Regions from separate parts of the Homo sapiens genome. Here region 1 is linked to region 2. Evidence: fine-mapped expression QTL. A gene starts in region 2. The other region holds a variant in brackets. All regions are shown on one strand. Distances are from middle to middle. Region 1 holds the start of LGI3 (leucine rich repeat LGI family member 3). Region 2 holds the start of PDLIM2 (PDZ and LIM domain 2).

The links.
Region 1: its variant is fine-mapped to the expression of PDLIM2 in liver (GTEx, PIP 0.97).

Annotation. Positions count from the first base shown.
Region 1 is chr8:22,156,185-22,161,542 of GRCh38, forward strand. LGI3 (leucine rich repeat LGI family member 3) reads right to left here and starts at 622. Exons shown (of 8, transcript NM_139278.4): 1 at 153-622. The coding sequence starts at 358. It also overlaps a transcript of SFTPC not described here. RefSeq lists an enhancer at 655-799 and a cis regulatory region at 727. The variant T/G (reference allele first, on the strand shown) is at 3,246.
Region 2 is chr8:22,577,803-22,583,160 of GRCh38, forward strand. It overlaps PDLIM2 (PDZ and LIM domain 2), which reads left to right and starts at 2,673. Exons shown (of 9, transcript NM_001368120.1): 1 at 2,673-2,895; 2 at 3,577-3,728. The coding sequence starts at 2,803. RefSeq lists enhancers at 440-1,133, 3,907-4,599 and silencers at 990-1,389, 1,460-1,529, 1,630-1,719, 1,730-1,889, 2,620-2,709 and 1 more.

The DNA of each region.
Region 1 (5,358 bases), 420 kb before region 2:
TGGTGCCTGGAATCTCCAGCCCTGAGGACCCCTGCAGTCCCCCTGGTCCCCGCACTCTGAAGAGGGGGAGCGGGGGTTCTCCTGTCCTCTCCCAGAGCTGTCCTCGGCCTCCTCTCCCTCCCCAACCCCCAAGGCCAGGGCTGGACACTCACAGGGAGATGACCTCCGAGGGCAGGTTCCTGGGCACCGCCTTTGAGTCCACGCAGAAGGCGGTGTCCCTGGTGCAAGAGCAGCTGGGCGGGCAGGGGGGCGTCTTGGGGGGCCTCTTAGCGCTGACTTGCAGCATGAGGCAGAAGCCGAGCGCGGAGAGCGCCAGCAGCCCCGGCCCCGGGCCCCCCCTGGCCCGCAGCCCCGCCATGCTGCCCGCGATCTCTCCCTGGGGCCGGCGGCCGCGGCCCCCGCCCCACCGCTCCCGCGGCTGGGCCACCCCGCGCGGGCTGGCACCTCCCTGCCACCGGCAGCTGCTACCGCAGCCAGGGGCCCGCCTGCGGACTCCTCCTGCCCTCGGGCGCCGGCTGCGGTCCCCTCCCCTGCTCGCTCCCGCGATCCGGCTCGGGAGAGAAGAGCGGAGCGCGGAGCTGGAGCCGCAGCCGGGGCTGACCGCGCCGGGTGGCTGCGGACTGCGGCGCGGGCGGCGGGGGCGCGCGCGGGGCGGCGCGGGGCCTGGGAGTCACGGAAGGGGAGGCGTGGCCGCTGTGTGCTCTACCGGGCGGTCTCTGGGGCCATCCGCGTGTGGGGCTGCGCGTGAGTGCATGCGTGTGAGCTTGTGCTTGTGCCTCTGCTGGGCACGACTGTGCGCGCCGGTGCTCACCTGTCTCTGCACGGGCACATGCACTCACTGCCTTGTGGAGGCGCTTCGGCGTTAGGGATCCCTGTGCTTCTGTCTACCTGGGTTTCTTTGCATGGGGGGACACATCCCCTAGGCAGCATCATGGGCATGTCGTGAGTGACAGACGCATATCTAAGTTAGCATGCAAGATTAGAAGCACAAGGGCGTCCTGGAGGAGTCTGAAGTGCGCTTCTAACCGGATTCACATGTTTTTCCACGCGCCGCTGAACAGAATGTACCTTTGTGTCAGCATGAGCTGAAAAGGGAAACGCAGCCTCTGGAGCTGGAGTGGGACTGTGTGGAATTCTGGAACATTTCTCACGCTCAACCACAGCCTGTTAAAGCTGGGAAGCGCTTTGGATATTTTTCAGTCCAGCCCTTTGTCTAACAAATGAGGAAACTGAGGCCCCCTAAGCTTGCTATCGCAAGTGCTCTGTACTTTCCCTACTTAATCCTCTCAATCGTTTGAGGCAGGTGATAGTAATTCCCTTTTACAGACAAGAAAAGTGAGGCCTGTCGCACCAGAAGAAAAAGGTATCAGCAGGGATTTCCGCCCACTCTGCCCAGCTTCAAGGTTCACGGTCGTCCTTCCATGCACGGCTCTTCCAAGTGTAGCCCTGGGAGCCCGGGGGTCCTTGAGAACCTTTCAGGAAGTCTCTGAGGTAAAAACAATTTTCCTAATATTGTTAAGACATGATTTGCCCTTTTCACTTCTATGAAGCTCCAAATTTAAAAGATTTCCAAAACTGTAAAGAAATGACACTTTCTCTCTAATTTTATTTTGCTTTGTAAAATAATTTTGCTTTGTAAAATCGTTTTTCCATTAAAAATGTGATTTATGTCATAACCTATATTGGGTTTATTACTGATATTTTAAATTCACATGTAAATAAAAATGTAATTTCTCAGTAAATATCAACAGACATATCCCACATAAACAAAAGCTCTTGGGGGTCCTCAATACTTTTTGAGAGTGTTAAGGGGTCCTGAAAACAAAAAGCTTGAAGACTGCTGCTCTCTACCACGTTAGCTCCCCTGTGGCGGAGGATGACTGTCCTAAGAGCTCATAGGCACGGGGCAAGGGGAGCCTGGCTGTCAGCTGCCTGGGCTTCTAGTCTTGTGCTTTTTGCACACCAGTCCAGGGAACGAAGACCACTGGCTTTAAGATGCTTCCCCAGCTGTCCCCAGACTCTGCCAGCAGGGGATTCTCTGGTCTGAGCTTAAGTTGTGTTCTCCCAGCCAGGGATGCCCCTGCCCTTTGATGTCTCCTTGCTGCCACACATTTAGCCGCCCTCCCCATGCCAGCTTGGGGGGAGGGAAGCAGTGAGGGTAGGGAGGTGGCTGGGGCAGCTGGGCAACTGTCCCCACCCGTCCCTGGCACGGCTCTGCCCAGTACACAAAGAGCAAAGTGAATCTTGTCCCCACCCCTGCAGCTGAGGGGCTGGAGGAGGAAACGGGGAGGCCCACACAGAAGGGGTGGCCACCGTGGGGCTGTCCATCACTCAGGGCTCTCAGAGGGAGTCAACCCAGAAACAGACAAAGAGGGTGAGTCTGGGCTGTGTTCTTAGCTAGTGAGAGGTCCCCTAGAGGATGAAGTAGATGATGCTAATGAGGATGACTGGATGTCACACCCATGATGCTATTAGGTCCTCATAATAGCATAGTGAGGTGGACAGCTAGTACCTGACCCATCTCACAGATGAACATACTAATGCCTAACAAAGCAGAACGACTCACGCTGGGTCCCAGAGCTGGCCAGTGGAAGCACTGAGACCTCCACATACTGAAGGCATGGACTATTGACCGCTGTTGGTATTGGTCTCATCATTGACTATCATTAAGTGTTGGCTGTTTGCATGCTTCCTGCCCAGTGGCAGGTTCAAAGAAGCCCGCAGGAAGCGTGCTCCTTTCTTTCCCAGGGCCCGCAATTGGGCTGGAAGATAGAGCAACAAAAAGCGCCCATGTAACTCATGGGAACATTCATGTGTGCTGAATGGCAGGTGAAGGTGCCACAGAGAGGCTGAGGATTTCAGAGGGCACCATGAACTGGAGTGAGGTCGCAGAGCAGGTGCCATTGGCTCTTGGCCTGTTTGGGTGGGTGGCATTCAGAGAGGTGGAAGGTCAGATGCACTGTTCACGCCTGTAATCTCAGCACTTTGGAAGGCCAAGGTAGGAGGATCACACGAGGCCAGGAGATCAACGCTGCAGTGAGCTATGAAGCTGTGATTGCACCACTGCACTGCAGCTTGGGTAACAGAGTGAGACCCTGTCTCTAAATAATTAAATAAATAAAATAAAAATAAAACCGGAGAAGTGGAGAGGGATTGGAGGTGGGCTTTCACAGAGGGAGAAACGGCTTAAGTACAGGCCAAAAAGTGAGAAGGCTGCAGACAGGGCTGGTAGGGGGAGGGGGAAA[T/G]TTGGCACACCCAGCTAAAGGTCCTTCTGTGTCTCCTTCTCCAAGGAACCCAAGACCTTCACTTGGTTGGTGTGAGCACTCCAGGAGGCAGGCACCCTCCCTCAGCCCTCAAGCAAGCAAAAATGGGTTTAAAAAAAGAAGGAGAAGAAGCAGCAGCAGCAGCCGCCACAGAGCTTGTGACAGCTACAGCCTAAGGGCAACAGGCAGGGGAGACCAAGGACCAGAAAGAGCAGAGGCTTTTTCAAAGAAAGAGATCCCTCTCCCAGCACCCAGCGATGGCGGCAAACCCCACCCACAGTGCCTGCTAAGAACAAGTCCCACGTGAGAACAACATGGCCCCCCGAGATGCCCACAGGGACCCCGAGATGCCTGCAGTGCTTGGCTCTCCCGCTGGCCAGCTGCCCACCTGGCTCAGGCCCAGTACTCGTGAGTCAGCCGATCAATCCCAATGTTGCCAGGATGATGGGGGCGGGAGTAAGGGCCCTGGGGGAGGGCAGGGGTGGGCACTGCAGGCGAGCTGTCTCCCACATCTGGCACCTGCACACAGCTGAGGCCGAGCTGAGAGGATGCTTCTGTGGGCTCCCCCTCCTCCCGGCACCCCTCCCCTCCTTTCACTGTCCTAGGACACTCTCTGGCTGCTGGAGTCTTAGGCAAATATTTAAAGGGGCAGCAAGGGGGTGAGGAGGGTGGTGGGAGCAAACACTTCCCTCCCTTTCTTCCTCCCTGCGCTTCTCAGGGGCTCTCAGTTCAGATGCCATGCTGTTATGCAACCTTGGGGCTGAAGGCCCTCCAGATGGAGAGGGGGACAGGGGAACCTGCCAGCTCATGACCGAAGGGCAGGGCCCAGGTGGGAGGGGGCTGGGGCAGGGGACAGGAACTGGGGTGGCATGTTAAAGGACAGGAGGCTGGTTGGGCATGGTGGCTCACACCTGTAATCCTAGCACTTTAGGAGGCCGAGATCACTTGAGCCCAGGAGTTCGAGACCAGCCTGGGCAACATGGTGAAAACTCATCTCTATAAAACAAGCAAAAATTAGCTGGGCACAATGGCATGCACTGGTAGTCCCAGCTACTTGGGATGCTGAGGTGTGAGGATCACCGGAGTCCAGGAGGTCAACGCTGCAGTGAGCAGTGATCTCGCTACTGCATGCCAGCCTGGGTGATAAAGTGAGACCCTGTCTCACAACAAAACAAAACAAAACAAAACAAAAGGATAGGAGGTTAAGGGAGCGAGCCCAGGCCTGGACTCTGCCACAGTCACCTGAGTTTAGAGGTGAAGGGACTTTAGAGACCACCTGGCCCAAGGAGTGAAAGGGAACCTGAGAGAAAGGGTGAGCCAGCCCAAAGTCATTGGCAGATTTGACCTCGTAAATACATAGAGATGGCTTTGGGAAGGCACTAGGAAAGACAGAGAAAAGAGAAGGAGACAGTCCTCAAAGCTGATCGTATTTGGGTGAGTATTATTCTCAGGGCAAATTTAGGATCAGAGGATGCAGAAAGGGGAGTCTAGAGGGGTAGAGTGTAGACCACAGGGTGAGTGAGCTGATTCGAGGATGGGGAGACTGGGAGCCCACCAGTGACCAGAGCCAGCCCTGTTCAGGGCTGTCCGGGCAGAAGAAAGCAGTGTCAGACCTGGAATCTGCCATCAGCACAGCCTGCAATTGACAGACAAGCCCAGAGCAAAGAAGGAAGCACTGCACATGAGTAAGAGCTTGCCACCAGTGGGGACAGAGTTTCCAGAATTAGGAAAATAATCACTGGGGGCAAGTTTGAGGTTGGTACCAGATATGTGGGAGGAGGCAAGGTAAGGGAAAGAGTACTTGAAGTTGGAACTGGTCCTTGCAGGGAAATGCACATTTATGAAACCCCGAAAACTGATGTCAAAGCACCTCCTGCCTTGGGCAGAGTCCTCTCAGAGTCTACAGGTGCTGCCTCCAGAACCCTCTTCCTGGAGCGCATCCCTATGTATCTAGAAATTCTGCTGGGAAATATGATGGTCAGACCCTTGGCCACCTGAAAGGTTCAGGGTGGTAGAAGAAAAAGGAAAGCCACAGGGCAGCAGGGGCAGGTGCCAGCAAGGAAGGCAGGCACGCCAGGAAGACACCCATGGTGAG
Region 2 (5,358 bases):
CACATTATCCCCATTTTCCACATGGGGAAACTGAGGCCCGGAGGAGCCGAGGAGGTTGCTGAAGGTCACACAGCCGGTGAGACGCAGCTGTGCACTTGGGGCTAGGTCTGTGTGCCCCCGGGGCTGTGCTCACCCTGCCTGTAGTTGCCTCTCCCCTCAAGGGGCTTCCAGTCTAGTCAGGGAGGCAGAGCAGGTACGTCAGGCCAGGCGGTCATGCCGGGAGGCCGGAGACCAGCCCGTGGGAGAGGAGTTTACACACACCCAGGACGGTCTGTGGGAGGAGGGGGGCCAGAGTGTGAACGCAAGGAGGCTGAGACGCGGGCACAGACAGGTGAGGGGCGTGGGGAGGGCACTCTTCACAGAGTGAGCGTGGAGGGAATGAGTCACACCTGAGGCAGGCGAGGCACAGCTGCGCCCACAGGTGTGATCCCCTGAAAACACAGCAGCCTGGCAGCCAGAGGCCAAGTGGAGACCCAACGAGAGGCGGCTCTATGGCCTTGAGGTCCCCGGAGAGAGGGTTGCCAGGTACGGCTTCTCCTCCCCGAGCTGGCACCGGGGTCCCCTCCTTGGCTGCCCTCTCCTCATCCTTATAGCCTGGGCTTCAGGTGCTTGAAAGAGGACAAGGGAGGGGGCAGGAAGCGGGGTGAAGACCTGCAGAGAGGATGAGGTGAGGGCCCACGGGAACGGGAAGGTACCAGCCCAGGGGTGGGGGTGCCCAGTGAACCCCTAGCCAGGAGGCTCTCTCCATCTCCTAGGGCCCCTGCGGGTCCCCCTTTGCGGGCATTCCAGGCAGAGAAGTTCTGCGCTGCCGAGAAGCCAGCGTTCAGGAAGGGAGTTGGCGGGCAGGAGGGTGGCCTTGGTTTGGGATTTGTGGGTGTCAAGGCCGCATCTGCGCCAGCCTCCCAGCCTGGAGTGGGTGGAGGAGCCAGGCGGACCGCAGACACACCCAGGCAGCCCACCCTGCCCAGGACCTGGGGATGCGGGGCGGGAGAGCGCGGCCGGCGTGGGAGAGCTTTATGGGGCTGCCCCCTCGATCGTCTGCGAAGTGGGGCGCGGGGCAGTCCCTGGACCGGCTCTGCTGTGCTCCGGGCAGTCGGGGGCTTGCGGGCGCTCCGGGGAGGATGCGGGCACCACCGGCTGGACGGTCGCAGCCTGCAGGGGGCCCTGGGGACAGCCTGCCTCATCCCCCCGGCGGGCTCGGGCCAGGTGGCAGCGCCTGGGCTCGCCGCGCGGAGGCGGCGGCTTCTCGGGCTAGGGGCGGCGGCAGGGGCGGCCCCGGGATCACATGGGCGGAGGCAGGTCCGGGAGCCCCGGGCGGGCTCTCCCCAGAGTCGGGTAGACGGCAGCGGGAGCGGTGGCGTCTCCCCGCCTTCCCTCCCTCCCGGGCCTGGGCGCCCAGCCGGACAGGTGAGCGGCAGCCAGGTGAGCGCGCCCACCTGCGCCTCTCCGCGCGGCCCGCCCTCCCCGGCGCCGGGCTCCTCTCCGCGCCCCTGTCGGCGCGGAACCCTGGCCTCGTCCGCGGCCCAGCTCCCTGGAGCCTCGCATCAGCGGGGGCGCCCCCGCGAGCTGCGCTCTCCCCGGCCGGAGCGCTCCTCCTCCAGCCCCCAGCCCGCAGGGTACTTTGCCCTCGGAGCGAAGGAGGCTCCAGAACTGGTAGAGCCGGGCCATCGGGCTGGGCACCTCCCCGCGGCGCCCGCAGCGCGGAGTCCACTGACCGGCTCAAAGGTCTGGGAATCTCGGGGCGGCCGCGAGCCGGCCTCGGGGACTGGGGTGGGGGCGGTGCTGGGAACAGAGGCTAGGCCTGGGCCCAAGGGGAAGGCAGCCGGGGATGGAGCGGACAGACCGCTGGTGCTCTTGATAGATTCTCGCAGCACTTGCGTCCCCAGGGCAGCCCCAGGATGGGTGCTGGGCAGGGTGGTGCCCAGCCTGGCACCGCGGCTTCCTGCCTGGATTGGCTCCTGGCTCCAGAGCTAGAGGCTCAGGAAATCCCACAGGGGTCTGTCTGCAAGGGCACTTCCTTGCCCAGCGGAGGGGCTGTGGATGGGAGGCCTGTCACCCCGGCTGTCTGTCGGGCAGCATCAGGAATCTGGGGGTGGGTGTGTCCAGCTTGACAGATGAACCCTGGCCTCCTTGCCCTGGCAGCCGGCCCCTGGGGGAGGTGGGGAGCCCGGTCTTGCCCGTGTGATCCACTTTGCCAAGAACGAGGTGGGCAGCTAGGAGGCCCATGTGAAGACTCGGCCTCACCCCACCAGTCCTTCACCTGGCCAGTGACTTACACAGTCTGTACTGGTGCCAGCCTGTTCCTTGACCCGTCACTCCTGCTTCCTGAGCCCTGCTCTCCCTAGGCCACTCACCAGCCCTCCCCCAGAGTGGAGAGGAAGTACCGTGTGCTGTGGGTTTTGGGGACAGGAAGCAAGCGCTAGTGGGACTGAGCCCTGATGGTGGAGGAGGGGAGACTGAGGGGGTGCTGGCATCCCCTCCACTTGCCAGCCCCTGCCCCCCATGCTCCAGCAAGCCCCCTGCCTGGCAGCCTGGGCAGCCCCCTCCTGGGAGTCGCTCCCTGGGCTGAAGACTAAGGAAGGGAGAACCCAGAAGCATGGCTTCCCAGGGTGGGGGGAAGTGAAACCGGGCTGAGGGAGGGAGTTAGCCACTTCCTCTACCCACCCCAAAGCCCCTGAGTAGCTGCTCCGGGAGCTGTGGTGCCCTCTCCTTCTCCCTTTGGCTCCTCTCCTGCTGCCTTACAGTGCCCCCAGAGCCGGCTAGGGGCATGGACTTCACCTCCTGGTCCTCTCTTCCTCAGGTATGGCGTTGACGGTGGATGTGGCCGGGCCAGCGCCCTGGGGCTTCCGTATCACAGGGGGCAGGGATTTCCACACGCCCATCATGGTGACTAAGGTAAGGATGGTGGCTCAAAGAGATGAGAAGGTCCTGCCAGAAGCGAGGTCGGCCCTGTTCACCCCACTCTGCACAGATGGCTTGCTTTTTCTGTTCTGGAGCTAGGGATCTGCTGCTGCCTGGCGTGCTGGCTGTAAGGGAGCCGTGGCCCTTTGCCACGGGGATGTGGTGGCCACTTCAGGAACAGACCTTGGGAGTGAAAGGGAGCTGGGACCAGGACAGGGCCGGCTCTTGCCTCCCCAGTTGCTATCCCCACACTTGCAGGCAGCCATTTGGGGTGATTACTAGAACAAGAGCCCCGGAGTTCTTGGCAGTCTCCTCTTGACCTGGGCCCAGGCTGGGAACATTCACAGGAGGGCTGTGCAGGCAGCCACCTGCAAGGTGCGATTTGCACGGGCAAGGCTCTCTATCCAAAAGTATTTCCAAGCACAGTTCCTGAAATTCTGCCACTGCACATTCTTTGGGAGGCCCATTAGAATGCCAGTGTGGGGTGGGGGCTGCCACCTGCGCTCCTGGAGGGGATGGCTGATCAGCTGGGTGTCATGAGCAGGCAGAGGGACATGCAGGAGGGTGCAGGCCGGCCTGGGTCAAGCCAGCCTCTGTGTTTCTTGGGTAGCAGAGTGGGAAGTCCCTTCTCCAGCTGGGCCACGGTCTGAGCATGCCAGCTCCTCATCCCTACAGGTGGCCGAGCGGGGCAAAGCCAAGGACGCTGACCTCCGGCCTGGAGACATAATCGTGGCCATCAACGGGGAAAGCGCGGAGGGCATGCTGCATGCCGAGGCCCAGAGCAAGATCCGCCAGAGCCCCTCGCCCCTGCGGCTGCAGCTGGACCGGTAGGGCCTCCCGCTCTGCAGAGCCTGTGGCATTCCCCCTCCTCCACCACCCCACGTATTGAGCAGCCCTTGCTCCTGCCCATGGGCTAGAGCTCAGCCCTAAAGCGGCCTTCTTGGGCCCTCTCCACACCTTGGTGAGAAGGTCCTGGGCTCTGCTTCCTGCAGCAGGGTGGGCTGAGGGGTGTTCCCATGCCTGGTTGGGTAAAGGTGGGCGCCAGGCTGGGCGTGCAGTCACAGGCTGGGCAGGGCGAGCTGGCACCAGCCACCTTGAAGCCCGGGTTTGACTGGTTCCCAAGAGTGTGCAGGGCACAGGGCGTGGGCATGAAGTGGGTTGAAGAGGGGAACCTTCTGGGAAAGGTATGCCCGAGGCTGCATCCCCAGGACTCCTGCTTCCAACAGGGCATGGCCTTTGTTTAGTTCCCAGCTGGAAGTGAGGACTTGGGGGGCTCATTCCTCATAGAGGCTGTCTGTTCCTCCCCATCACTGAAGGCAGATGCCCGATCCTGGGTTACTCCTAGGGTTTTGAGCCTATAAGCCAAGGTGGGGCCAGGGTGGGGCCTGGAGGCCAAGCTATAGGGGGAACAGGTGGCTCCCTGGGGTGGGGCATTGCAGTGAGTCACAGATCGGGAATGCCAGGAGATCCCCGAGCCAGGAGAGCCCTCTGCACGGGCCTAGAACCTGAGTCAGACACCTCTTGCATCCTGGCCACCCCCACATTGTCCTGCTCTCTTCAGCCCTACCAAGCCCCTCCTTCTCCAACTGCCCTGCCCTGTGGTGTGGCAGAAGCCGGCTCCCTTCATGTCATTCAGGTCCCTGGGTGTTTGCAGGAGCGGGACCCCAAGAAGGAGGGTAGAGAGCACCTCATGGCATCTGGGAATGGGGCAGAAAGCTACAGGAGGCTGAGGGTCTGGCAGCGGAAGGGCAGGAGCCTCGGACTGTCTCTTCCTCTGGGGTTCTCTGGAGGGACCAGGGCTCGGGGGAGGTAGGCCTGGGCTGTAAGTCAGGCCTCTGGTTCTGCACCAGGCAAGCCCAGACTCCAGTCTCTTAATTTTTTTTTTTTTTTTTTTTTTGAGACAGAGTCTCGCTCTGTTGCCAGGCTGGAGTGCAGTAGCGTGATCTCGGCTCACTGCCACCTCTGCCTCCCGGGTTCAAGAGAGTCTCCTGACTCAGCCTCCTGAGTACCTGGGACTACAGGCGCGTGCCACCACGCCCAGCTAATTTTTGTATTTTTAGTAGAGATGGGGTTTCACCACGTTGGCCAGGATGGTCTCGATCTCCTGACCTCGTGATCCACTTGCCTCAGCCTCCCAAAGTGCTGGGATTACAGGTATTACACCGCGCCCGGCCCAGTCTCCTTACTTTTGCTGACGTGATGCCCACCCCCCCCCCCGCCCCCATCTCCCGCCTCCTACCCTCCCAGGTGACCTCTCTGGTATTCAGAAGCCCTGGGGCAGGAAGCAGGGCTCCAGGCTGGAGCCAGAGACTGAGCTCTCCTCACCCTGATCCCATGGCTCTCCCAGGAAGCGGAGGGTCCTGTTGCCCTACATCTCTAGAGGCAGCCTCACGGCCAGGAATGTGTGGCAAGATGGGACGAGGCAGGCTGTCCCTCAGCCCAGACTTCAGTTACCTC